Linked DNA regions of Homo sapiens. The protein of the gene in region 1 purifies or fractionates together with the protein of each later gene. This does not show direct contact. Each region holds a gene or a part of one and is shown on either strand. Other genes may lie near its edges.

What was found.
Region 2: the proteins of DBF4 (region 1) and CHAF1A purify together in Homo sapiens (co-immunoprecipitation; one study listed by IntAct). This does not show direct contact.
Region 3: the proteins of DBF4 (region 1) and ORC4 purify together in Homo sapiens (affinity purification with western blotting, with the first as the bait; one large-scale study listed by BioGRID). This does not show direct contact.
Region 4: the proteins of DBF4 (region 1) and RAD18 purify together in Homo sapiens (affinity purification with western blotting; one study listed by BioGRID). This does not show direct contact.

The regions. Positions count from the first base shown.
Region 1 is NC_000007.14:87,882,015-87,888,335, forward strand, and holds part of DBF4 (protein DBF4 homolog A), read left to right. Parts: intron 1-2,964; coding exon 2,965-3,144; intron 3,145-4,829; coding exon 4,830-4,880; intron 4,881-5,314; coding exon 5,315-5,384; intron 5,385-5,968; coding exon 5,969-6,045; intron 6,046-6,321. UniProt on the Homo sapiens protein: Regulatory subunit for CDC7 which activates its kinase activity thereby playing a central role in DNA replication and cell proliferation. Required for progression of S phase.
Region 2 is NC_000019.10:4,439,139-4,445,217, forward strand, and holds the end of CHAF1A (chromatin assembly factor 1 subunit A), read left to right. Parts: intron 1-3,106; coding exon 3,107-3,203; intron 3,204-3,786; coding exon 3,787-3,887; 3' UTR 3,888-4,259; downstream 4,260-6,079. UniProt on the Homo sapiens protein: Acts as a component of the histone chaperone complex chromatin assembly factor 1 (CAF-1), which assembles histone octamers onto DNA during replication and repair.
Region 3 is NC_000002.12:148,008,911-148,015,231, forward strand, and holds part of ORC4 (origin recognition complex subunit 4), read right to left. Parts: intron 1-6,321. UniProt on the Homo sapiens protein: Component of the origin recognition complex (ORC) that binds origins of replication. DNA-binding is ATP-dependent. The specific DNA sequences that define origins of replication have not been identified yet.
Region 4 is NC_000003.12:8,896,060-8,902,380, reverse strand, and holds part of RAD18 (E3 ubiquitin-protein ligase RAD18), read left to right. Parts: coding exon 1-1; intron 2-3,333; coding exon 3,334-3,487; intron 3,488-6,321. UniProt on the Homo sapiens protein: E3 ubiquitin-protein ligase involved in postreplication repair of UV-damaged DNA. Postreplication repair functions in gap-filling of a daughter strand on replication of damaged DNA.

The DNA.
Region 1 (6,321 bases):
AGCAAACAAAATTATATTAGGGCTAGATTGCAAAGGGCGTTTTATTCACTCTAAGGAGTTTTAACTATGTAAGAAATTAAAAACCAAAGGAAATAAGTGGTACTAACATAAGAACAGACATACAGACCAATAGAGTAGAACAGAGAACCCAGAAATAAACCCTTGCATATATGGCTAATGGATTTTCAAGAAGGGTGCCAAGACCATTCATTGGGGAAAAGATGATCTTTTCAACAGCTGGTGCTGGGAAAACTGGATATCTACATGCAGAAAAATGAAGTTGGACCTTTACTGTCATATGCGTAAATGAGCTCAAAATGGATCTAAGATTTATTTGTAAGAACTGAAACTCTTAGTGGAAAATATAGGGAGAGATCTTCATGACATTGGATTTGGCAGTGATTTCTTGGATATGATACCAAAATCATGTGCAACAAATGAAAAGTATGAAATTGGACTTCATCAGGATTAAGAACTTTTGTGCCTCAAAGGACATTTTCAGGAGTGAAAGAACGCACAGAATTGCAGGAAATCTTTGCAAATTGTACATCTGCTAAGGGATTAATATCCAGAATACTTATATAAAGAACTTCTGTGACCCAAGAACAAAAGGACAAATGGCCCAATTTAAAAATGGGCAGAGGAACTGAAAAGACATTTACTCAGAAAAGATATACTAATGGCAGATAAGTACATGAAAAAATGTTCAACGTCACTAATCATTAGGGAAATGTCAATCAGTAATCACTTAACACCTGTTAGGATGGTTACTGTTAACCAGAAAAATAACAAGTGTTAACAAAGATTTGAAGAAGTAGAACCCTTGTGCACTCTGAGTGGTAGTGTAACACGATATAGCCACCATACAAAATAGTATGGGTAGTTTCTGAAAAAAGTAAAAAATTGAATTACTATATGATTTTGCAATTCCATTTCTGGCTATACATACAAAATAATTGAAAGCAGGGTCTCAAAGATATTTATTATTCACAATAGCTAAAAAGTGTGAACAGCCTTAATGTCCAACAAGTAAATAGATAAAGAAGAGGTTGTATATACATACAATAGAATATTATTCAGCTTTAAAAAGGAATGAAATTCTAATACATGCTACAACATGGGTGAACCACAAAAAACGTGCTAAGTGAAGGAAGCCAGTTACAAAAGAACAAATGTAGGATTCCATTATATGAGTTATCTAGAATAGCCAATTTCAGAGATGGAAAGTAGAATAAAGGTTATGAGGGGCTGGGAAAAATGAGGAATGAGGAGTTACTGTTTAATGGGTACAGACTTTCAGTTTGGGATCATGGAAAAGTTATAGAAATGTTTTAGTAGTGATGGTTGCATAATGTGAGTGTACTTACTGCCGTTAAATTGTACACTTAAAAATGGTTAAAATGGCTAATTTTATATTTATCACAATAAAAGTGTATAGGAGATCGGGTTTCTTATGAAAAATTAGAACCTCTGACATTATTAGGGCCTCATATTTATGAAAATGAAGGCAGTATTTGATGTGTGAATTATTTGTATTATTGCCTGGCCCTTATAGGCATTTGAGTCTAATCCCTGGAATAAATAAATGTAGGTACATTATTTACTGTTCAATGAAAATGAATGTTGGTCGGAAAAGAAATGATTTGCACTTAACCAAGGAGGCCACTGGTCTCAGTAGCAAATGCTGCTTAATGCTTAGATGAAGTTAACTTATCTGTTACACACTTCATTTTTATTATCATTTATAGTGTGGGATCCTATAGAAAATAGATACAGCTATTTAAAATATTCTGAGAAGTCTTTCATGGATGTAAATTGTTACTGCTTATTAATGATTCACAGTTTACTTCTGCTTAGTGGGTATTTATAGTATACATATTTATACTATGTATTTTTCTAATAATATTAGTAATTCTACTTAGTATTTACTTCTCCCTATTTTTATTTTCCTGACCCTGGCGATCTTTAATAACCTTCACTTTGGTACATGTCTTTATAAGTAAATTCAGATACTTAGGCGGTGGTTTTCAAACATTTTAGTAAAGAAATTCTATTCAAACAGTCTTACACTCTTAAGCGTAAAGGTTCCCTCCATCCTGTAAGTTGAAGCCTCAAGGGAAGGTGTAATAATGATTGATTTAGACTTGTATTGTCTGCTATGGTAACCATTAGTGATATGTGGCTATTAAATTTAAAGTCTTTAAAATCAAATTTAAAAATCAGTGGCTTGAGCTAGGCGCAGTAGTGTGTGCCTGTACTCTCAGGTACTTGGGAGGTTGAGGTAGGAGGCTCTCTTGAGCCCAAGAGTTCAGGGCCAACCTGGGCAACATAACAAGACCCCATCTCTTAAGAAACAAAAAATTCAGTGGCTTAATCACACTACCAAGGCCATTTCAAATGCTTTGGTAAGTTGTATTGGACACTGCTGCTTTAGATCATGGGCTTGAGTCAGAATGCCTATGTTCAAATTATATTATTTGCTACTGGGTAACATTAAGCAAGTCACCTCTCTTCACTTTTTATCCTGCAGAAAATGTAGATAGTATCATGAGGCTGTTCCATAGATTAAGTTAATTAACATATATAAAGTATTTAAGAATAGTATCCAGCACATGCTGCTGTTGTGCTGTTATAGGAGCTCTTATACTTCCTCAGAGATCTAGGTTCAGAAAAATACAGTATAAAAACCACCAATTTACGAAATAATTGCATCAAATTGAAATTTTTTACTGTGCTTGGCATATGAAACAGTTTATGGTTTTTATGACCTAGTTGAAAATACCTTGGTGGCATGTGCCTATAGTCCCAGCTGTTCAGAAGGCCAAGGCGGGAGGATCACTTGAGAACAGGGGGTTGAGGCTGCAGTGAGCTATGATTGTGCCACTGCACTCTAGCCTGGATAACACAGTGAGACCGTGTTTCTTAAAACAAATTTATAAATAAAAATACTTTGTTCTCTTCTAGCGAGTTGAAGAATTTCTCAGCAAAGATATCAGTTATCTTATTTCAAATAAGAAGGAAGCTAAATTTGCACAAACCTTGGGTCGAATTTCTCCTGTACCAAGTCCAGAATCTGCATATACTGCAGAAACCACTTCACCTCATCCCAGCCATGATGGAAGTTCATTTAAGTCACCAGACACAGTAAGTCTCTTAAATATGCTTTGAGACTCAGAAGGGCTATATCCTGAAGATCTCCTGGTTTTTAATAGCAAGGTGGCAGTAGAGTTTACTTATGTAGAACATTTGCAAAGCCACATGATGTGTGGCTCTCTAGTCCTCAATAAAGTTGCTGTCTTTTAGGAAGGTGGGTTTTTCCTAATAGTTCTTGTGTAATCATACTCTGATTGCTTAGGTATACCCTTGTATTTAGGGATGGCGTGTAGTTTTTAGAATAATTTACAACTAAAAAGTTAAGAGCAGATCATTCTTTGAAGAAGAAATAGAAACCTTTTTAATTTTCAGAGCAGGGGTCAGCAAACTCTGGCCCATGGGCCAAATCTAGTCTGTTGCCTTTTTTGTACAACCTGCAGGTTAAGCATGGTTTTTACATTTTCAAATAGTTGTGTAAAAATATCAAAAGAATATTTTGTGACAAGTAGAAATTTTATGACATTCAGATTTCATTGTCATAATGTTTTATTGGAACACAGCCATACCTGTTTGTTTAGGTATAATCTGTAGTTGTTGTGTTTTAGGCAGAATTGAATAGTTGCTGTAGAGACCATATGGCCAACAAAGCTTAAAATGTGTACTGTCTGGTCCTTTGCATAAAAAGGTTGCCAGCCCCTATTCTAGAATTATTGAAATCACATCCCTACCACTCCATGGCCAGTAAATTGAAAGATGCAAGGAAAGACAAATTAAATTGATTTAATTGGGTGTGAGGTGGGATAGGATCAAATGAGAGATAAAATGTTTATTTCAGTTTTTAGGTTGAAGTGTAATTAAGTTATTATTTTACAATATTCTCCTCGACTTACCTATTATAGCCATTTGAAAATTAAGGAAAATGAGGAGAAAACAGAAGAAATGAGTCAGAAAGGAGCTATCACTTGAAAAAAGAGATACAATACATAGAAGAAAGAATGGAAAAGAGATCAAGAAAGGACCATGCATTCTCTGAGTTAATGCTTTTTTGGAGCAAGGAGACAATACACCAGCGATTCCAAAATAATTGTTGGTTATGGCATTTCAACGAGTTTTCCTAGTACTTTATTTAAAAAGTGAAGTAACGGCTGGGTGCGGTGGCTCACGCCTGTAATCCCAGCACTTTGGGAGGCTGAGGTGGGTGAATCACGAGGTCAGGAGTTCAAGACCAGCCTGGCCAACATAGTGAAACCACATCTCTACTTAAAAAAAATACAAAAATTAGCCGGGCATGATGGTGCGTGCCTGTAGTCCCAGCTACTTGGGAGGCTGGGGCAGGAGAATCACTTGAACCCGGGAGGCAGAGGTTGCAATGAGCTGAGATCACACCACTGTACTCTAGCTTGAGCGACACAGCAAGACTTTGTCTCCAAAAAAAAAAAAAAAAAAAAAAAGGTGAAATAACATGTGAAAACAGTATATAAAATTTATTGTTTTTCTGAAATCTCTGATTTAATAGGAACTAAAATGTAAGCCAATTAATTATAAAGAATTCCAGTGAAACCTAGCTATTTTATTTTTCATGTTGAATAGAATTTACTACAAAACCAAAGAGGTCACCCAAAAAAGAGAAACTTTTTAATATGAGACCCAAAAGTTCTCTTTTCTTAGCTGCTTTACCTTTTTAACCTGTTCTCCAGTTAAGCACTATGTTTTAAATTTTTCTGGTCTTTTTATAGGTGTGTTTAAGCAGAGGAAAATTATTAGTTGAAAAAGCTATCAAGGACCATGTAAGTAGGAACTATAAAGATTCACATTGTACATTTTGTTATTAAAAACTCAACTGGAAATTACAGATATTCTTGAAATTTTCCTTTCCACATTTTTAGGCAAAAACCTGAATCTCAGCATATATTTTATTTTACAAAGTAAAGAACTTACTTTTCATGTAGAAACATCCCCATCTTGTGGCCTTTTAAAATATTACTGGAAACTTAAAACTTGCCTTATAGTTTTCATTAAATTACCAAGGATGTGGGTATAAAGTGGGATTGATTTTAGGAATTCTATAGAAAATCTTGATGTCCTAGCTATTGTAACTCTATAGGGTCTGTTACAAATAACTGCCTTAGTGACATTAAACTTCAAATAATTGAATTTTTATTAAAATTTAGCTCATCTTAAATAATTTCCTAGAACAACCATAAAACTTTTTTTTTTACAGGATTTTATTCCTTCAAATAGTATATTATCAAATGCCTTGTCATGGGGAGTAAAAATTCTTCATATTGATGGTAAGGATTTTATAATTGTTTTTTGACAGTATTTGTTTTAAGTGTCCATGTCTGTCCTTTGGTTCCTGACTTTACATAGTGAAATTTTGATAGCAGGGATGTCTTAATCTGTTTCCTATTGCTTATAACAGAATACCTGAAACTGGGTAATGTACAAAGAAAAGGAATTTATTTCTTACAGTTATGGAGACTAAGAAGTCCTGGGTCAAAGGGCTGCATCTGGTGAGGGCCTTCTTGTTGGTGGAGACTCTGCAGAGTCTTGAGGCAGCACAGAGTATCACATGGTGAGGGGCTGAGTGTGCTAGCTCAGGTCTCTCTTTCTCTTTTTATAAAGATATCAGGTCCACTCCCATGATAACCCATTAATCCATGAATTCCCTCTTAAAGGTCCCATCTCTCAGTAAGTACTGTCACACTGGGGGTTAAATTTCAACATGAGTTTTAGAGGAGACAAACATTCAGACCATAGCATAAGAGATACCTATAATGGTAAATTCTTTATCTAATTTAACTACAAGAAAATATCACTGTTTAACTCCAAGAGTAAAATTGCTAATCTTAAAACCTTCTTTCTTTTAATAAAGACATTAGATACTACATTGAACAAAAGAAAAAAGAGTTGTATTTACTCAAGAAATCAAGTACTTCAGTAAGAGATGGGGTATGTTTTCTTTTTCAATTTTTAAAGTGACCAAGCTTGGTTTTTTTACTTACGTATTTGCAAAGTTTTCCTCCCAAGCAGAAAATATCCTAGGGGCAAGCCTGTGTATGATGTGCCTGTTTCTGTTATTCAAATAAATCGAGTGTCATTTAACTTTAGGGTTGTACTCACCAGGTAAAAGTTGTTCCTGGAATAGTGGCATAGGTCGCTTCCTCAGCCCCCTTTTGTTACTGCTGTTTTGTAACAGGTACTTTTATTTATTCTGTAGAAAAATCA
Region 2 (6,079 bases), on another chromosome or scaffold:
GCATGGTGGTGCACGCCTGTAATCCCAGCTACTCAGGAAGCCGAGGCAGGAGAATCACTTGAACTCAGGAGGTGGAGGTTGCAGTTGAGCCGAGATTGTGCCACTGCACTCCAGCCTGGGCAACAGAGCAAGTCTGCGTCTCAGAAAAAAAAAAAAAAGACAAAAAGGCACAAATGTTAGTGACACCATCTTCATCCCATGTAGTCGTTAAACGTTTTCCTGACTCCTGTTTTCCGTAGTCTGCGCTCCTCCGTGTCTGTGTTTAGCACTTGCAGTGCTGCTGGCGAGATGACAGCTGTCCCCGTGAAGCAAGCTGCCGGCAGCTCAGCACAGTGGGACTCGGTGTTATGTGTTAAATCCTGTCTTCAGCCTAGAGGGTGAAGAGTGGTGATTGCTCTGAAAAATTTTGGATCCAAGAAAAGCCTAATGTGTCAACGCGTCTCCTGTGTGGAGGGAGGGCCCAGTGACTTGAGGTGGCTCTGAAGAAATTGGCATGTTCTTTTGTTTAACGTCCCCAGACACCTCCAGATCAGAATGTCCCTCCTCAGCAGCGTCTACAGGGGACTCTTAGACTCTTCTTTGCTTAACTATTCTTTCAAAAAGGTAGTTGAAAATGGCCGTAGGCCAGGCTCAGTGGCTCATGCCTGTAATCCCAGCACTTTGGGAGGCTGAGGCAGGAGGATCACTTGAGACCAGGAGTTGAAGGGTGCAGTTACCTGTGATTGCACCACTGCACCACAGCCTGGGTGACAGAGCAAGATGTTTCTCCTGTGTCCTCACAGGGTCAACCCATGCTGCCTGGGGAGAGGGACAGCCTGGGCTCCCAGCCACTGAAGAGAGGATCCAGGAGGGGAGCCCCTACCCAGGAATTGATGAGGCTACGGTAGGAACCCAGTCTGCCTGGCCAGGCACTGTGCTCTTACATGACAGCCCATGAAACCAGTCTATGGCCTGACCGTTGTGTTGCTGTGCGGTCACTTTTCTAGGTTTTTGTAGAGGAAGAATTCCTGGAATTTTTTGAGGACTATCCTCCCTACTGAAATAAGTGTGGCTGTCTGTCCTGGGATGGGCTTGTGTTCATGCACAGAGAGGGTAAGCACTGACGTGGAGGCTCATGGTGGCCTCTACGCATCCTGTCTTTCTCCTTTGGTGAAAGCAAATGGAAACAGCTCAGGAATCTTACTAGGGTCAGGTGCGGTGGCTCACACCTTGTCATCCCAGCACTTTAGGAGGCCGAGGTGGAAGGATGGCTTGAGCCCAGGTTGAGACCAGCCTGGGCAACATAGTGACACCCCCTTGTCTCTACTTAAAAAAAAAAAAATTAGCTGGGCGTGATGGCGGGTGCCTGTAGTCCCATCTTCTCAGGAGGCTGAGGCAGGAGAATGGTGTGAACCCAGGAAGTGGAATTTGCAGTGAGTCGAGGTCTAAAAAAATAATAATAATAATTCACAAGTCACAGTCATCACTTCACATCAGGGACGTGTTCTGAGAGGTGTCCTCAGGCAATTTCATGGTTGGGTGGGGCTAGGTTGCTCTTACACATCCTAGATGGACAGCCTGCCACACGCCTGGGCCGTGTGGTACATAGCCCAGGGCTCCTGAGCTGTGGACCTGTGCAGCAGGTGACTGACTGCTCCATCCTGCAGGCACTTGTAACCCAGTGGTATATGTGTCTTTAACATAGAAAAGGCACAGCAGAGGCCAGGTGCGGTGGCTCATGCCTGTAATCCCAGCACTTTGGGAGGCTGACGTGGGCGAATCCTGAGGTCAGGAGTTCGAGACCAGCCTGGCCAACATGGCGAAACCCCCGTCTGTACTAAAAATACAAAAGATTAGCTGGGCGTAGTGGCGGGCACCTGTTAAAAAAAAAAAAAAAGGCACAGCAAAAATATCGTTGCGGCTGGGGCAGTGGCTCACGCCTGTAATCCCAGCACTTTGGGAGGCCAAGGCAGGCGGATCACTTCAGGTCAAGAGTTCGAGACCAGCCTGGCAACATGGTGAAACCCCATCTCTACTAAAAATACAAAAATTAGCCGGGTGTGGTGGCAGGTGGCTGTAATCCCAGCTACTCAGGAGGCCGAGGCAGGAGAATCACTTGAACCTGGGAGTCAGAAGTTGCAGTGAGCCAAGATCGCACCACTGCACTCCAGCCTGGATATATGGCAAGACTCTGTCTCAAGATTTATATATATTAAATAAAAATACAGTTGTCTGTAATCCCAGGACTTTGGGAGGCTGAGGTGGGTAGATCATAAGGTCAGGAGTTTGAGACCAGCTTGACCAACATGGTGAAACCCCGTCTCTACTAAAAATACAAAAATTAGCTGGGCGTGATGGCATACACCTGTAATCCCAGCTACTCAGGAGGCTGAAGAACGAGAATCGCTTGAACCCGGGTGGCGGAGGTTGCAGTGAGCTGAGATTGTGCCACTGCACTCCAGCCTCAGTGACAGAGTGAAACTCCCGTCTCAAAAATAAAAAATAAAGGCCAGGCATGGTGGCTCACACCTGTAATCCCAGCACTTTGGGAGGCTGAGGCGGGCGGATCACGAGGTCAGGAGATCAAGACCATCCGGATAACACGATGAAACCCCGTCTCTACTAAAAATACAAACTGGGCGTGGTGTCAGGCGCCTGTAGTCCCAGCTACTCAGGAGGCTGAGGCAGGAGAATGGCGTGAATCCGGGAGGCGGAGCTTGCAGTGAGTCGAGATCGCGCCACTGCACTCCAGCCTGGGCAACAGAGCGAGACTCCGTCTCAAAAAAAAATAAAAATAAATAAATACAGTTGTAATCTGATGGGGCCACTATCAGGTATGCGGCCTGTCACTGACTGGAAATTATTCTGCAGTTGGCAATGATGGCTGTTTTTGGAGATCTGAATCCAGTTCATTTGAGGGAACCCCCAAGGTTCTCTGGTTGTGGCCTCTTGAATAAACCTCTCACATTTGGACAGTTTGTTACCAAATTGGGTTCTGGATGTTGGTTTCCTTCCGTGTTGGGGGTGGGAGGAAGGTGTCACACCTGTGGAGTTCCCCCCGCTACCGCACTGGCACCAGGGTGGCTGCTGCCTGCAGTGCTGATGGCCGTGTACCCTGTCTGTCCAGATTGGTGCTGAAGACATGGACGGCTTCCAGGCAGACACGGAGGAGGAGGAAGAGGAGGAGGGCGACTGTATGATCGTGGATGTCCCGGATGCTGCGGGTGAGAAGGGCTGTAGATAGCAGAACGCACTGGTGAGGTGGGCGCTGGAGGTAAACCTCAACAGAGAAGGGATGGGGCTGCCTAAGACTAGCTCCACTGTGAGCAGCCAGGAGGGCTTGCAGCTGGAAGTGGCTCCTGCCCTGCCACATCCTCGGGCGGGCTGGGCCGTGGGTGCTGACCATGCCAGGCATCGTTCTGGCCGCAGAGCCACAAGGGCCTATGCTGGGAGTCTCAGGTGGTTGTGACGTTAGATGGGGGTCAGGGAAGGCTGCACTGAGGCAGCAAGGGAGGGCCAGGTGGATTTCTGGAGCACTCGCCAAAGAGGAAGTACAGAGGCCCTGCAGCAGGCTGCGTGGGAGGAGTGTGCCCGGGTGGTGGGGGGCAGGCAGGGTCAACCTGAGAGCAGGTGAGCAGGTCACCTCTAGAAGAGGCACAACGCCCCAGCCTCTGCCTGTCCCCACTGTCAGGTGGAGGGTCCCGCCCTGGGGTTGTTGCAGGCCCCATGAGGCAGCAGGGTGGGGTCTTCCCCCAGGGAGCCCAGAGGGCCCAGCCAGCTCAAGACCCTCCCTCTCTTGCCCTGCAGAGGTCCAAGCCCCGTGTGGAGCCGCTTCCGGAGCTGGGGGTGGTGTGGGGGTGGACACCGGCAAGGCCACCCTGACCGCGAGCCCACTGGGTGCATCCTGAGAGCAGGGGTGACGTATGTAGAATGCTTAGGGTGTCCTCCCCACAGAGCAGATACTTGAACCGACTCAATTCCTGTGTAAAGAGCACTTTGTCCTGCTTCACGGACCTCCCCAAAGTGTGCAGAGTTCTATATAGGATGCTGGATTAGTTCCTTTGATATTTGTAAAAATTCCCCCAAGAGCCGCATATGAATCTGCCCTTTAATAAAGCATTATTGAGATTGCTGGCCTATTGGGGAAGCCTGCGGGCACAGGAGCAGGCGTGGAATCCAATACTTGTAAATGAATTGAAGCGTCAGGACCACCCGCCTGGCCACGTGCGCGGGCCCCTGGACCTAACGAGGCAGTGTATAAACTTATTCTCTAGCCCTGAGCTGCTCTGTCTGTCTTTTCCGAAAACATTGTGTTTCTCTGAGAGTGCACCTTGCCCATGGCCCGGCCCCATGTGGTGCCTGGTGTCTGGGGCCAGCCTTGTGCCCTGCAACAGCACCGTCCCATCTGTTTGTCACTAAGTCACCCTCATACCAGGCTGACCTGGGTCAAGGTGCGGGTTTTTCCGCACGTGCTTCTGTCCGGCGATCCCTCCTGCCCTGGGTTGGGGGGTTAGGAGAGGGTGTTCCCAGAGACCTGCTAGGGTCACCTCCCTGAACCCGGAGCTGCTGGGAGCCGAGTTTGGCTTCGAGTCTGAGGCTTTGTGAGAGCCCACCCCAGGTCAGGTGCATCTTTTGCGAGTGCTGGAGCTAGAAGGTGACCTCCTCCCCGCCCCAGGTTGAGTGGGCTTTATCCACACTGTCCGAGGGAGGACAGGCGACAGCCGCTGTGGTACTGAGCAGCTCAGAGCACACGCAGCCACGGGGAGGGTCACGCTCGCCAGTCCTGCTCTTCCCAGCCACACCCCACCTGAAGTCCTAAGCTTCCCTTCAGGGAACCCTATGTGGGAAAAGTGTCAGCTACCTCCATCCACCCAGTCAGGGACGGCAGGGCGCCCGGGCCAGGCCTTCCTGCTGGGAAGCAGGATTCAGCTGTGCCTGAAGCAGAGGCTGCCCCTGTGCCACACCTTTGATGAGCTTTACAGGGGCTCCCGACAACCCGGAATCAGGTCCTGGGGCCTGCAGGACGCAGGACTGGAGTGACAGCCTCCATTCTCAACAGGCCGGGTGCCCACACCAGCTGGGGCAGTGCCGGGGGCGAGGGAGGGACCAATGCAAGGTCAGGGGCACGAGCATAGGCCCCGGGCACCTCCCCCAGGTGCAGACCTGCATCCCCAAGTCAGCAGTGGGGCCGGGGCACACATGCCTTCCACACTGCAGGGCAGAGTCCCTGTGTCTCCTGGGGCTGCTGTACCACAAACCTGGTGGCTTAAAGCAAGTCACCATCTCACAGCTTGGGGGTCAGAGTGCACACATGCCCCGCCAGGCTAACATCAAGCTGTGGGCAGGACCAGGCCCTCCTGGAGAGTTTCCCAGTGCTCGGAGGCGCTGCATCCCTCAGCTCGGGGTCCCTTCCTCCACCTTCACAGCCATGCGCAGCCTCTTCCAGTCTCTCTCTGATTCACCCTCCTGCCACCTCTTGTGAGGACACTGGGTCCCGGACCACCCAGGATCATCTCCCAGCTCAAGACCTTTCATCATACCCAAGCCCCTCTTGCCAGGTGAAGTTGCGCATCTGCAGGTTCCAGGAATAGGATGTGGCCGTCTCAGGACACCCTGTCCCTCTGGCCACAGGGAAGCCAGGCCTGTGACAGCACTCGCCTCCCCTGCAGGGACTGGGCCTTTGTGGGCACAGCACAGCCTCCCCTAGCGCACGGGACTTCCTCCCCAGGTGGGTGGCTCATCGGGCACTTGTGGCCAGGTGCTGGCCTGAGAACAGGTATCCACATGGTCCCACCTTGACAGGGAGCCACACCCAGCCCCCAAGCCATCCGCTCTTCAGCAGGTGGGCCTGCCCTGTGTCCCACGGTTTCAACGGAGAACCAAGAAACTATATTCAAACAACCTGTTTATTTGGGCTTATGATTTACTAACTGCAGGTCTATGTGCAGGAAGGCCAGCATCCCCTCCTGCCGTTGTCACCCACATCCACAGAGCAGCCCTAGTGCCAGGTGCAGCCACTGCCACCCACGGCACACGGGAACAGGACCCATGCTGCAGGCCTGCTCTCCTGCCCAGGGAGATGCCACGTGTGTCTGTCCGG
Region 3 (6,321 bases), on another chromosome or scaffold:
TCTTTTGCAGCATCGAAACTTTCTATATAACACTATCAAAAAAAAACTACTCCAAAACTTAAAATATAAAAATATATAGAGACAAAAAGTCAAAAAGTGAAGGGATGGAGTAGAAGTGTACAGGTTTTTAGTTTTTTCTGTGCGTGTATTTTTTCTTTTCTTTGCAATCAGAGTTGTCATCAGTTGCAAATAATTGGCTATAAATTGTTATTTGCTAACCTCATAGTAACCACAAAACAAAAACCTCTAATAGGTGCACAAAAAAATAAAAAGCAAGAAATTAAAACATACTACCAAAAAATAATTATCACAAAGGAAAACAAGGAAAAAAATGGGGGAAAAGCCCTAGAAAATAACCAGAACAACAATAAAAAGGCAGTAGTAAGTCCTTACCTATCAATAATAATACTGAATGTGAATGGACTAAATTCTTCACTATAAAAACATAGACTAACAACAAAAAGACGGAAAAAGATACTGCACCAAACAGAAACCCAAAAAGAGCCCAAGTAGCTTTGTATCTATTTTTAGATAAAATAGATTTCAACATAAAAACTATGAAGAAAGAAAAAAAGGTTATCATATAATACAAAAGGTTTTAATTCAGCAAGAGGACATAAAAATTATAAATACATATCTATCCAACACAGAAGCATCTAGATATATAGAGTCAAGTGTATTAGAGTTAAGGAGACAGAACCCAATACAGTAATGACTTGGGACTTCAACAGCCCACTTTCACCATTGGACAGATCATCTAGACAGAAAGAAACAATGAATTTAATCTGCACTATAGATTAAATGGACCTAATAGACATTTACAGAAGCTGTCATCCAACAGCCGCAGAATACATTCTTCTCCTTAGCACATGGAACATTTCTCAAGGATGGATCCTAAATTCTCCAATCAAAAGACACAGAAGAGCTGAAGGGCTAAACAAAACAAGGCCCTACTACCTGCTACATATAAGAAACCCACTTCATTTATAAAAACATAGATAGACCAAAAGATGGAAAGAGACATTGCATGCAAACAGAAATCCAAAAAGAGCACCATCATGTTAGGCCGCAAAACAAGTCTGATAAAAAGTATATTTTCTAACCACAATGGAATAAAAGTAGAAATAAATAACAAGTGGAACTTTGGAAACTATACAAACATATAAGAATTAAACAATACGTGCCTGAACAACCAATGAAGTAATTAAGGAAATTAAAAAATGTCTTGAAACAAATGAAAATGGAAACACAACCTACTAAAACTTATGAGATACAGTTAAAGCTAACACTAAAGGGAATGTTTATAGCAATAAATGTGCAAATCAAAAAGTAGAAAACCAAGAAATAAACAACCTAGTAATGCATCTTAAAGAACTAGAAAAGCAAGAGCATGCCAAGCCCCAAATTAAGAAGAGAAATAATAAAGAAAACAAGAAAATAAATAATAAAAAACAGAAATAAAATTGAGACAAAAAAATAGAAAAGATCAATGAAATGAAAAGGGTTGTTTGGAAAGACAGACAAAATCAATGAACCTTTACCCAGACTAAGAAAAGAAAAAAAAGAAGATCCAAATAAAATCAGAGACAAAAAAGGAGACATTACAATTGATATCACAAAAATTCAAAGGATCATTGGAGACCATTTGAACAACTGCATGCCAATAAATTGTAAAACCTAGAAGAAACGAATAAATTCCTAGGCACATACAGCCTAAGAAGAATGAAACATTAAGAAAACCAAAATCGAAATAGACCCATAATAAGTTTCAAGATAGAAACAATAATAAAAAGTCCCCCATCACAGAAAAGGCCAGGACTTCATGGCTTCACTGAGTTCTACCAAACATTTAAAGAAGAACTAACATCAATCCTACTCAAATCATTCTCCAAAATCAAGGAGGATCTCCAAATTCATTTTATGAGGCCAGATTTATTCTTTTTTTTTTTTTTTTTTTTTTTGAGACAGAGTCTCACTCTGTTGCCCAGGTGATCTGCAACCTCCACCTACTGGGTTCAAGCGATTCTCCTGCCTCAGCCTCCAGATTAGCTGGGATTACAGGCATAAGCCACCATGCCCAGCTAATTTTTGTATTTTTTGTAGAGATGGGGTTTCACCATGTCGGCCAGGCTGGTCTCAAACTCCTGGCTTCAAGAGATCTGCCTGCCTCAGCCTCCCAAAGTTCTGGGATTACTGGCGTGAGCTACCATGCCTGGCCCCAGATTTATTCTGATACCAAAACCAGACAACGATACAACAACAACAAAAAAGAAACTACAGGCCAGTATCTCTGATGAAAATAGATATAAAAATCTTCAACAAAACACAGCAAACCAAATTCAACAGCACATTAAAAAGATCATCATAATCAAGTGGGATTCATCCCAGGGATGTAAGGATGGTTCAACATATGTAAATCAATCAGTGTGATACATGGTATCAACAGAATGAAGGACACAAAGTGTATTGTCATTTCAATAGATGCCAAAAAAATCTTTTTTGATAAAATTCAATATCCCTTCATAAAAACTCTCAGCAAACTGGGGACAGAAGGATCATCCCTCAACATGATAAAGCCATACACAACAAACCCACAGTTAGTATCAGACTGAATGGGGGAAAAACTGAAAGCCTTTATTCTAGGATCTAGAAGAAGGATGGGCACTTTCACCACTATTACTCAAGTTAGTAACAGAAGTCCTAGCCAGAGTAAACAGACAAGAGAATGAAATAAAGGGCATTTAAATTGGAAAGGAGTAAGTAAAATTATCATTGTTTGCAGCTCATGTGATCTTATACTAACCTAAAGACTCCAACAAACGACTATTAGAACTAATAAATTCAGTAACATTGCAGAATACAAAATCAACACACAAAAATCCATAGAATTTCTCTATGCCAACAGTGACAACCTATCTGAAAAAGAAATCAAGAAGGTGATCCCATTTACAATAGCTACAAATAATATTAAATATCTAGAAATAAACTTAACCAACTACAATGCAAACTATCAAACATTGATGAAATTAATTGAAGAGGACACAAACAAATGAAAAGACATCCCATGCTCATGGGTTGAAAAAAATTGTATTGTTAAAATGACAATACTTCCCACAGCAATCTACAGATTCAAAGCCATCCCTATCAAGAGCAATGACATTCTTCACAGAAATAGAAAAAAAAAATCCTAAAATTGTATGGAAGCACAAAAGACCCCAAATAGCCAAAACAATCCTGACCAAAAAGAACAGAGCTGGTAACTGGTAGACTTACCACACTACCAAACCTCAAAATATACTACAACGCTATAGTAACCAAAATAGCACGATAGTGGCATAAAAACAGACATGTAGAACAACAGAACAGAGAGTCCAGAAATTAATCTGTGTATTTAAAGCCAATTAGTTTTTTACTAAGGTGCCAAAAACACTCATTGGGAAAGGACAGTCTCTTCAATAAATGGTGTTGGGAAAACTGGATGCCCACATTCAGAACAACAAAAGTAGACCCCAACTCTTGCCATATACAAAAATCAAAGAAAAATGCATTAAAGACTTACATCTATGAAACTAATCAAGGAAACCATTAGGCAAAAACTCCAGGACATTGGTCTAGGCAAAGACTTCTTAAATAAGACCTCAAAAACACAAGCAACTAAAGCAAGAAAATAAAATAAAATAACAACAAATGAGATCTCTCCAAGCCAAAAAGCTTCTGCACAGCAATGAAAACAATAAAATGAAGATATAACATGTAGAATGGGAGAAAATATTTCAAACTAATATCTGACAAAGGATTAATAACCAGAATATATAAGAATCTCAAACGACTCAATAGGAAAAAAAAATCTGATTTTAAAATGGGCAAAAGATCTGAGGAGACATTTCTCAAAAAGACATACAAATGGCAAACAGGCATATGAAAAAAATGTTCCACATTATTAATAATCAGAGAAATACAAATCAAAACTATAATGAGGTATCAACTCACTCCAGTTAAAATGGCTTTTATCGAAAAGGCAGTCAATATCAGATGCTGGTGAGAATGTGGAGAAAGGGGAACCCTTGTACACTGTTGGTGGAAATGTAAACTGGCACAGTCACAACAGAGAACAGTATGGAGCTTCCTAAAAACACAACAAATAGAACTATAATCCAGCAATCCCACTACTGTGTATATACCCAAGAGAAAGGAAATCAGTATATAAAAGGTATCTGTACTCCCATGTTAACTGCAGCACTATACACAATAGCCAGGATATGGAATCAACCTAACTGTCAATCAATGGATGGATAAAGAAATGTGGTACATATACACAATGGAATGTTATTCAGCCATAAAAAAAAAATGAAATCCTGTCATTTTCAACAATATGGATGTGACTGACATTATAAGGGAAATAAGCCAGGCATAGAAAGACAAGTATCACATGTTCTCACCCATATGTGGAAGCTTCAAAAAAATTGAAGTCATAGAGATAGTGAGTAAAAAGATGTTAGCAGAGGCTGGGAAGGGTAGTGTTGAGAGGAGAATCAAGAGGAGATGGTTAATGGGTAGAAAAATATAGTTAGATAGAAGGAATAAAATATAGTGTTCAGTAGCACAATATAGTAATTACAGCTAACAATAATTTAGTGTATGTTTTAGAACAATTAAATGAGTGGAAATGAAATGTCCCTAACACAAAGAAATGACAAATACTTGAGGTAATGGATATCCCAATTACCTGATTTGATCATTACACATTGTATGCTTATATCAAATATCACATACTCCCCATTTTATGTATCCATAGTAATTAAAAATTAAAATTTTTAAATATATGAGTTAAGTTAAAAAAATTTTGGCTCAAAGCATAAATATATTAAAATCAAATCTCAGAAGTAAAAAAGAAAGACAATTAGGGTTTTATTTATGGTAGTGGCAGACAGGACCAACCTTTCTGCTGACGCCAACAAAAAAACTAAATAATGAATGAAATAAAGTAATGTGAAATTACTTACCAAATTCCATGTGAAGGTAAACCAGAAACAAACCATACACCAAGTAACTTTTGTTCTGAGGACATTTTCCTGTCTAGAAGAAAAGGCTGAGAAAAAAGGCTGAGCTAATGGAAGATGTGCCGGTCTATGGTAAAAAAATCAAAGCACAAGGCCAGGTGTGGTGGCTCATGCCTGTAATCCTATCCTTTGACAGGCCAAGGCAGGAGGATAGCTTGAGCCCAGGAATTCAGGATGATTGTGTGCAATACAGCGAGACCTCATTTAAAATAAAAATAAACACAAAAAATCAAAATCAAAAATAAAAATAAAAGCACATTGCCTAACAAAGCTGGGGACTCAGATAAACTACCCAATTTATGTTCAGAGTTTAAGGACAACATCATTAGGATAAGAGGAAATTGAAGGAAAATAGAATTCATGATCTTAAAGTCTTCCTTAATGTCATGTGTATAACAGAAGGAATCCCAACTCTTGAACATGAATAGTGACTTGGGACTGAAAGCACTCCTAGAGACCTTTCCTAGAAAAATGTACCTTCTTAAAAAAGATACTATTATTCTAGGACTCATATATTCCTATAATTTTTTAAATACAACTGGTACTCAAGGCACACAAGAAAAAAATATCATAAGCTAGCAGACACAGACTTAGAAAATTTAGAAACTGGAATTATCTTCAACAAACAACAAATGAACTATGAATATAGTCGGCCCTTCATAGCCACAGATTCACTCAACCAAGGATTAAAAATACATGTATATTTTTAAAAACACGACTATAAAAAATAATAGAAATTTTTAAAAAGCCATGACAGTATAACAATATTTACATAGCATCTACATTGTATTAGGTACCATAAGCAATCTAGAGATTATTTAAAATACGTGGGAGGATGTGTGTAGGCCGTATGCAAACATGATGGCATGTTATATAAGGAATTTGAGCTGCCTGTGGATTGTGGTATCTGCACGGGGTTCTGAAACCAATTTCCAGCAGATACTAAGGAGCAACTATACTAGGCCAATAAAAGCAAGATTGTAATTTTCAGCAGGTAACCAGAAACAGTAAGAATATCACCAATATCTTTAAAAAGATACTGATGCATTGATCTAATAATCTCGATGAATACAGGGCAAGATAAAGAATGCCACACGATGATTGAACATTTCCTCTACCCCCACAACCACACTTGACTAGGAGAAAAAAAAAAAAGAAGAAAAGAATTCCACACAAAAAGATTAGAGTGAAACAGCAGAAAAATTACAACCAAAAAAAGAAACAAACAAAAAAAAATTCTAAAAGAGAGATTTCCTTCAAA
Region 4 (6,321 bases), on another chromosome or scaffold:
GGTAAGAGACTATAATTAAAAACAGACATATGTCGAATTTCATTATTTACTTTTAATATGAAAAAATTAAACCAAAGAAATTTACTTTGGAGTTCTTAGTTCTTTGAAATGAGAAAAAGTATTTTTAGACAAACTTCATGTAGCAGTTTGTAAACTAGATTTATTACTATGGGGAAAGTGGTTGGAAGAATGTCCTGAAGAAACAATCTCTTTTTGTCTATCGTCCTTTCAGTTAATGATAAATCATAAATTTCTTTGTTATTTAAGCTTCAGGATGTTTTCTAGATATAGAATTTATTGGTGGAGATCCTGTAAAGAGAGTGAATTATTTTTGTGATAGAACACTGGTGTTTACTTTGGATGAAATGTTCTGCCAAACAGTCTAAAGTTAACATACCTGGTAGGCTAATACAGAGCACGTTCCTTAACTTTGATCCATTTTAAAATTTGAAATTGATATTTTAATTCTATTGCCTGGGCTTTGGACCAGTGAACAAAAAAGAATCATAATGGGGGAAAGTGCGCAAGAAAATTGCTTATTATGTTTTTCTATATTGTGGTAAAATATACATAACACAATGTTTATCTTTTTAACCCTTCATAAATGTACAAGTCATTGGCATTAAGTACATTCACAATATTGTGTAACTATCACCACTGTCTATATCCAAAACATTTTCATCATTCCCAGCACAAACTTTGCACTCATGAAATAGCAACTCTTCCGTCCCCTCTGCCTCATAGCCCTGGTAATAACAATTCCACTTTCTGTGTCTATGAGTTTGCCCATTCCAGGTACCTCATATAAATGGAATTGTATAATATTTGTCTTTGTGTGTTGGCTTCTTTCTCTAAGCATAATGTTTTCAGAGTCCTTCAATGTTGTAGCACATTTTAAAATTTTAAAATATTTTAAAATTTTTGATTAAACAGTATTCCATAGTATGTATATGTCATATTTTGTTTATCCATTTATCTGCTATGGTTATTTCCACCTTTTGGTTCTTATAAATAATGCTGCTATGAGCATTGGTGGTCAGATATTTAAGTTTCAGCTTAGAGTGCGATTTCTGATTCATATGCTGGTTCTATGTTTAGAACCTTTTGAGGAATCGTTAAACTTTTCCATAGTGGCTGCATTATCTTACATTCCCACCAGCGAAGCATGAGGGTTCCAATTTCTTCACATCCTCATCAATGCTTGTTATTTTCTGATTTTTAAATTTTTTAAAAATTGTAGATGTGAAGTGGTATGTCATTGTGGTTTTGATTTGCATTTCCCTAGTGACTAATAAACAATTTGTGCATAAAGTGCTGCCTCAGTATGTAACTCATGGTCATTGAACAACTCGAACTTGTTCATGCAGTTGTTAAAGGATATTTCTAGAAACTAGTTTAGCACTTGAGAAAATCTGACTGAATATTTCCCATTAAGAAAAGTTTTTTTAATTAGTTGAACCTCTCTTGAATATCATTGATGGCTTGTATGTATTTATGAACATCAATATTACTCTTTCCGGGGTTCAGAGGTGATTGCTGCTTTTAGATTGCTGTGCATGAATGAGATGTCTGAGAGGGTAAGGTATGTGAGAGAGATGAAGACAGACACAGACTGACTGAAAAGATGGATTTTGTATAGCATCATACAACCAATATAATTGTTGCTCTTTAGAACATTGAAGTGCTCATGTAAGTGAACAAGTTGCATATTCTCTCAAGTGAAAACTTAGCCTGTTTTTGTTGTGTGTCTCTGGGGAGCTCTGATGTCTGAGCCTCACTCTTCGGGGCTCTATTTTGGAGTCCTGCATTCTGAGATCTAAGGGCAAGTAGGAAGGATAACTTATTTTTTATGCCCACAGATTATTGAATGCTGTTTGTTCCCAAGAGGGAATATATCTTCTAGAAGTGTATGTAAGAGTGGAAGAAGTAAGAAAAGAATACAGACAATGTGCAAAAATAAAAGATTGTTTTAAGTTGAATTCCTGTTCCCTGGTTTGCTAGCTTGCTTGCATGCACCTCACTAGTTGAGTAATATAGTCCCTGGGTGAACCGAGTTGACTGGGGGATTGGCTCCTCTTAATGTGATTCTGGTATCTGTTTACAAGAGGAGTTCCTAGAGGTTCAGGATGGTCATCCTGGCTAAATTCTTTTTCCCTTTTCCAGATATACATTAGAGGGTGCTGTTTTGTTTTGCTAATGATAGTTTATTGACAGCCAGATGACATTAGGAGCATATTTTTAGGAATTACACTCTTGTGAAGTATGCTGTTCTCTCAGTGTAACAAAAACTTAGAACTATTTCTGAAAAAAATTTAACTGTATGAACTTGGCAAGGTTTTTTGAAGAATTTGTTATGTTCTTTCCCCATAAATTCTCTCTGTATAATCAAACCTTGACAATTGTATTTTTAGTGTGCTTTGTTGAAGACCACTTGCCTCTACAAGTGCTTGATGAGTGATGTGTGAAAGCTCTGTTTCTCTGTGAGGAAACACATGAAAGGAGCTCTGTAGTATTATTAGCACATGTAGCTTGCATGTGAGGTACCTCCTCAGTTCCTGAAAGTTAAGGACAGCACAGATGAAAATCCCAGCAGCGTTCATGATGAGTGGGAGAATCCTGGGCACTAAAGAATCTTTCACAGATATTCTTCCACTCATATTTGTAGAAAATTGGCCATACCCATATGCCACATTTTTGTAAACACTGCATCCTTCCAGCTTTTTGGGGTCTTTATTTTTATCTGCAATAAGAGACCTTGAAATCTGAGAATATGACAAAGAATGCACGGAAATGTGATGTGTATTGGATCAAATGGAAATATTCCTTATGTCTGTTTAGTTGTCCTTTTCCATAGAGAATAATTAGATTCTAGTTAACCTAGAAAAATGTTTAGAAAAATGTCCAGATAGATTCACTATCATATAATAGTAGCAAATATTGTGGTTGTCTTATTAGTTGAATCTGTAGTCTTTTTTTGGTTATACTTCTTATGTTGGTTTGTCAGTGTTCTCTGATCTATGAAATATGCAAGAATTCCTTAGTGATATGTTAATAGAGGCCTCATTAGAATTACAAGATTCTTCCTGCTTCTGGTTTTAAAATAAATTTTATTTTTAAACTAATTAATCTTGGAAAAACATGGGCTGGACAGTATAATTAGATAGCACCATTGTAGTGTTAATTCTTGCTCTCTGGCTGTCACTAGAGTTCTGGAATCTATGTGACATATACTTCAACTTTACTAAGTGCACATGGCAGTATTAAGTGTTGCAGAAGTAATAGGCATACAGAAGTTGTAGATTTTAAGGTACTCTTAAATTTATTTTTTCCTAGGACAGGAAGATAATATGACCTCAGTAACAAACCACTTTTCTCAATCAAAGCTGGACTCCCCAGAGGAATTGGAACCTGACAGAGAAGAGGATTCTTCTAGCTGTATTGATATTCAAGAAGTTCTTTCTTCATCAGAATCAGATTCATGCAATAGGTAAGAAACATGCAGTAGTTGATTATTTTAAATATCTACTTCATATGCACATGTAGATAGATAGGCAGAAATAATTAGAATGTAGCTTTGAGGCATGGCATGGTGTGTCACTCTTACATTTCAGTCCCCTTTTACTGCTGGGTCTTCTTCACAGTGATAACAAGGCAGGATTTGGGAAGGTAGTGCAGGGATCACAGGGTGAGTTTGGTCTCTACTCTATAGCCTTTATGTAGATACTTTTCCTACCGTTGGAAAAGAAAGCATGATAGACAGTGAAATTTTTGTCAAGACGATGAGTAAAGGAGATAAAAACAACTATATTGGAAAACAGAAATGATCAGAAAGACATGGCGCATAGGAGGGTTAAGAAATGAAAAATTTAACTGAGTAAATAGAATAGATGGGGAAACTTTAAAAATGAGAAGTTTGGTAATGAGTCATTTTGAAAAGATATTTTAAAAAATATATAGGGTTTATTTTACACACACACACACACACACACACACACACACGCATGCACACACACATACCAGTTTTTGTTCCGGTCTTTCACTTAATGTTATGTCATAAATGTTACGTTTCTATAGGTTGGCACAAAAGTAATTGAAACCACAGTTACTTTTGCACCAACATAATAGCTTATGTTTATAATTGTTATTTTTTAATGAGTACAGTATTCTGTTATGTCTCTGCGCTATAATTTACCAGACCCTTCAGTTTCTGTTAGAGCTCTACATTTTTCCCAGTGTTCTACTTATGTACCTGATGCTATGGTAAAGCTCTTCCTTTGTTTCTATTGAATACTTTTTTTTTCATTTTTTTGAGACGGAGTCTCACTCTGTTGCCCAGCCTGGAGTGCGGTGGTGCGATTTCGGCTCACTGCAACCTCCACCTCCCAGGTTCAAGCATTTCTCCTACCTCAGCTTCCCAAGTGGCTGGGATTACAGGCCTGTGCCACCACGCCTGGCTAATTTTTTTTTTTGTACATTTAGTAGAGACAGGGTTTCACCGTGTTGGCCAGGCTGGTCTCAAACTCCTGACCTCAAGTGATCCACCCACCTCGGCCTCCCAAAGTGCTGGAATTACAGGCATGAGCCACCGTACCTGGCCACTTATCTTTATTATTCTGATATGTAGGCATTGCCCTCTGAATGAATTGTACTGATTTAAAATGCCTACCTATCAGAATCATTGCTTATTGCCAGTGTTATTTAATGACGCTGAAACTTAGTCAAGAGAGACACCCATTTGATTCTGGTAACTGATACCATAGAAATCAGGAAAAGATTCAAACTTAGAAGGGACTACCAGTCAAGACCAAATTCCTTTAGTAGCATCATACTATGTGGTATTTATTTATCTGGTCCAACTGGGCGTTCTCAGGGTGGGGTTAATGAGTATATTACATAGATTTGGCCTTGCTGTGCTGAAGACATGCCAGTCTTGTCACCAGCTTCATACTCAACCCCTCAGATTCTGTTATCAAGGACGCTTGTAATCAAATTGAAGCTTAAGTGGTAGAGGAAATTTTCATTTTGGGGATGTTCCTTGTCTTTCACTTCATTTTTCCTTGTGGGGTTCAGTGTTGTAAGCGATTTCTATTATCCCCCTACATTTTATTATTTGATTTTTATTTGTGTCAGTCATTTATACTGCTGACAGTTGAAAGAATAAAAACAGAATGAAGCATCCTTATTTTGTTTCCCTGCCCATTTAACTTCAGAGTTTGGTTTAGTGTCTAGTTGTAGCAGTGGATATTTTGCTAATTAAAAAAAAGAATTTCCTTTGCATTAGACTCTCAGAGAGGATAATCTTTTGTTTCTTAAGCTTGTAAGTTAAATGTAAGCACAAATGTTTAATTCTTTTTTGAACTTGAATTTTTGTAGACATCCATGAGAACTCCAATATTTGGAACTAACCTAATGTTCTTATTTTTTTTTTCCTTAAAAAAATACAGCAGTTTACTTTTTATAAGAATTTAAAGTGATTGACTAAAAGGAATGTATTCTTTCTCTCTCTTTTTCTTCTATCTTTAATACAATGTTTCCTAACCCTTTTCTTCAGCACACATAGCAAATGATAGTATTTCTGTGGCATGCCAGGATAAAGAGATGATGCCGCCATGGGTTTCAGCCACCCTGCGTCTCACTGTGGGCTAGGGATTAATGCCTAGTGTACAACTACCCCGTGGGTGAGGGAGAGAACACACCAAATAGGAAGCTTAGCTTTTATTATATGAATACACCGTTGAACAGTTGAATAGGTGGGACATACATGGACAAATAGGCTCATGGTGCTTCTGTGGTAGAAAGGACAGCAAGAGCATTTGAAGCGCCCCTGTTTTGGGGCAGGTAAGGCAATGATTGAGTCAGTCGAAAAAGAAATTAAGTGACTTAATCTCATGATCCTAATGAATGGTAAAGCCAGTTTTCTGAATTCAGATATAATGCTTTCTTCTGCTTTTTTTTGCTGTTCTCCAAATCTCAGAAGGCACTGAAGCCAGATTAAAAGTTAAATGAACAGGTGACATATTAAAGTTACAGGTTTATGAGTTTCCCCACTCCACTGTTTTCATGTAGCTCCAGAACCTTAGAGGATAATGGAAGACAGATTCAGTCCAATGCTGTTTTTCAGAGTAGAATCTATCATGTTTTTAAAGTTAAAAATTATCAGTGTACATATTAAATACAAGTTTTTCAGATTTAGAATTTGTTCTTCTGAAAATAAGAGTCCTGAATGTCTCCTGGACAGAAAACCCTGGTTCTGGGGGTTTTAGGATCCAGAAGACAGCATGCCCAGATGGGCTTGGGTTAGTTCACTTGATTTGCACGTGA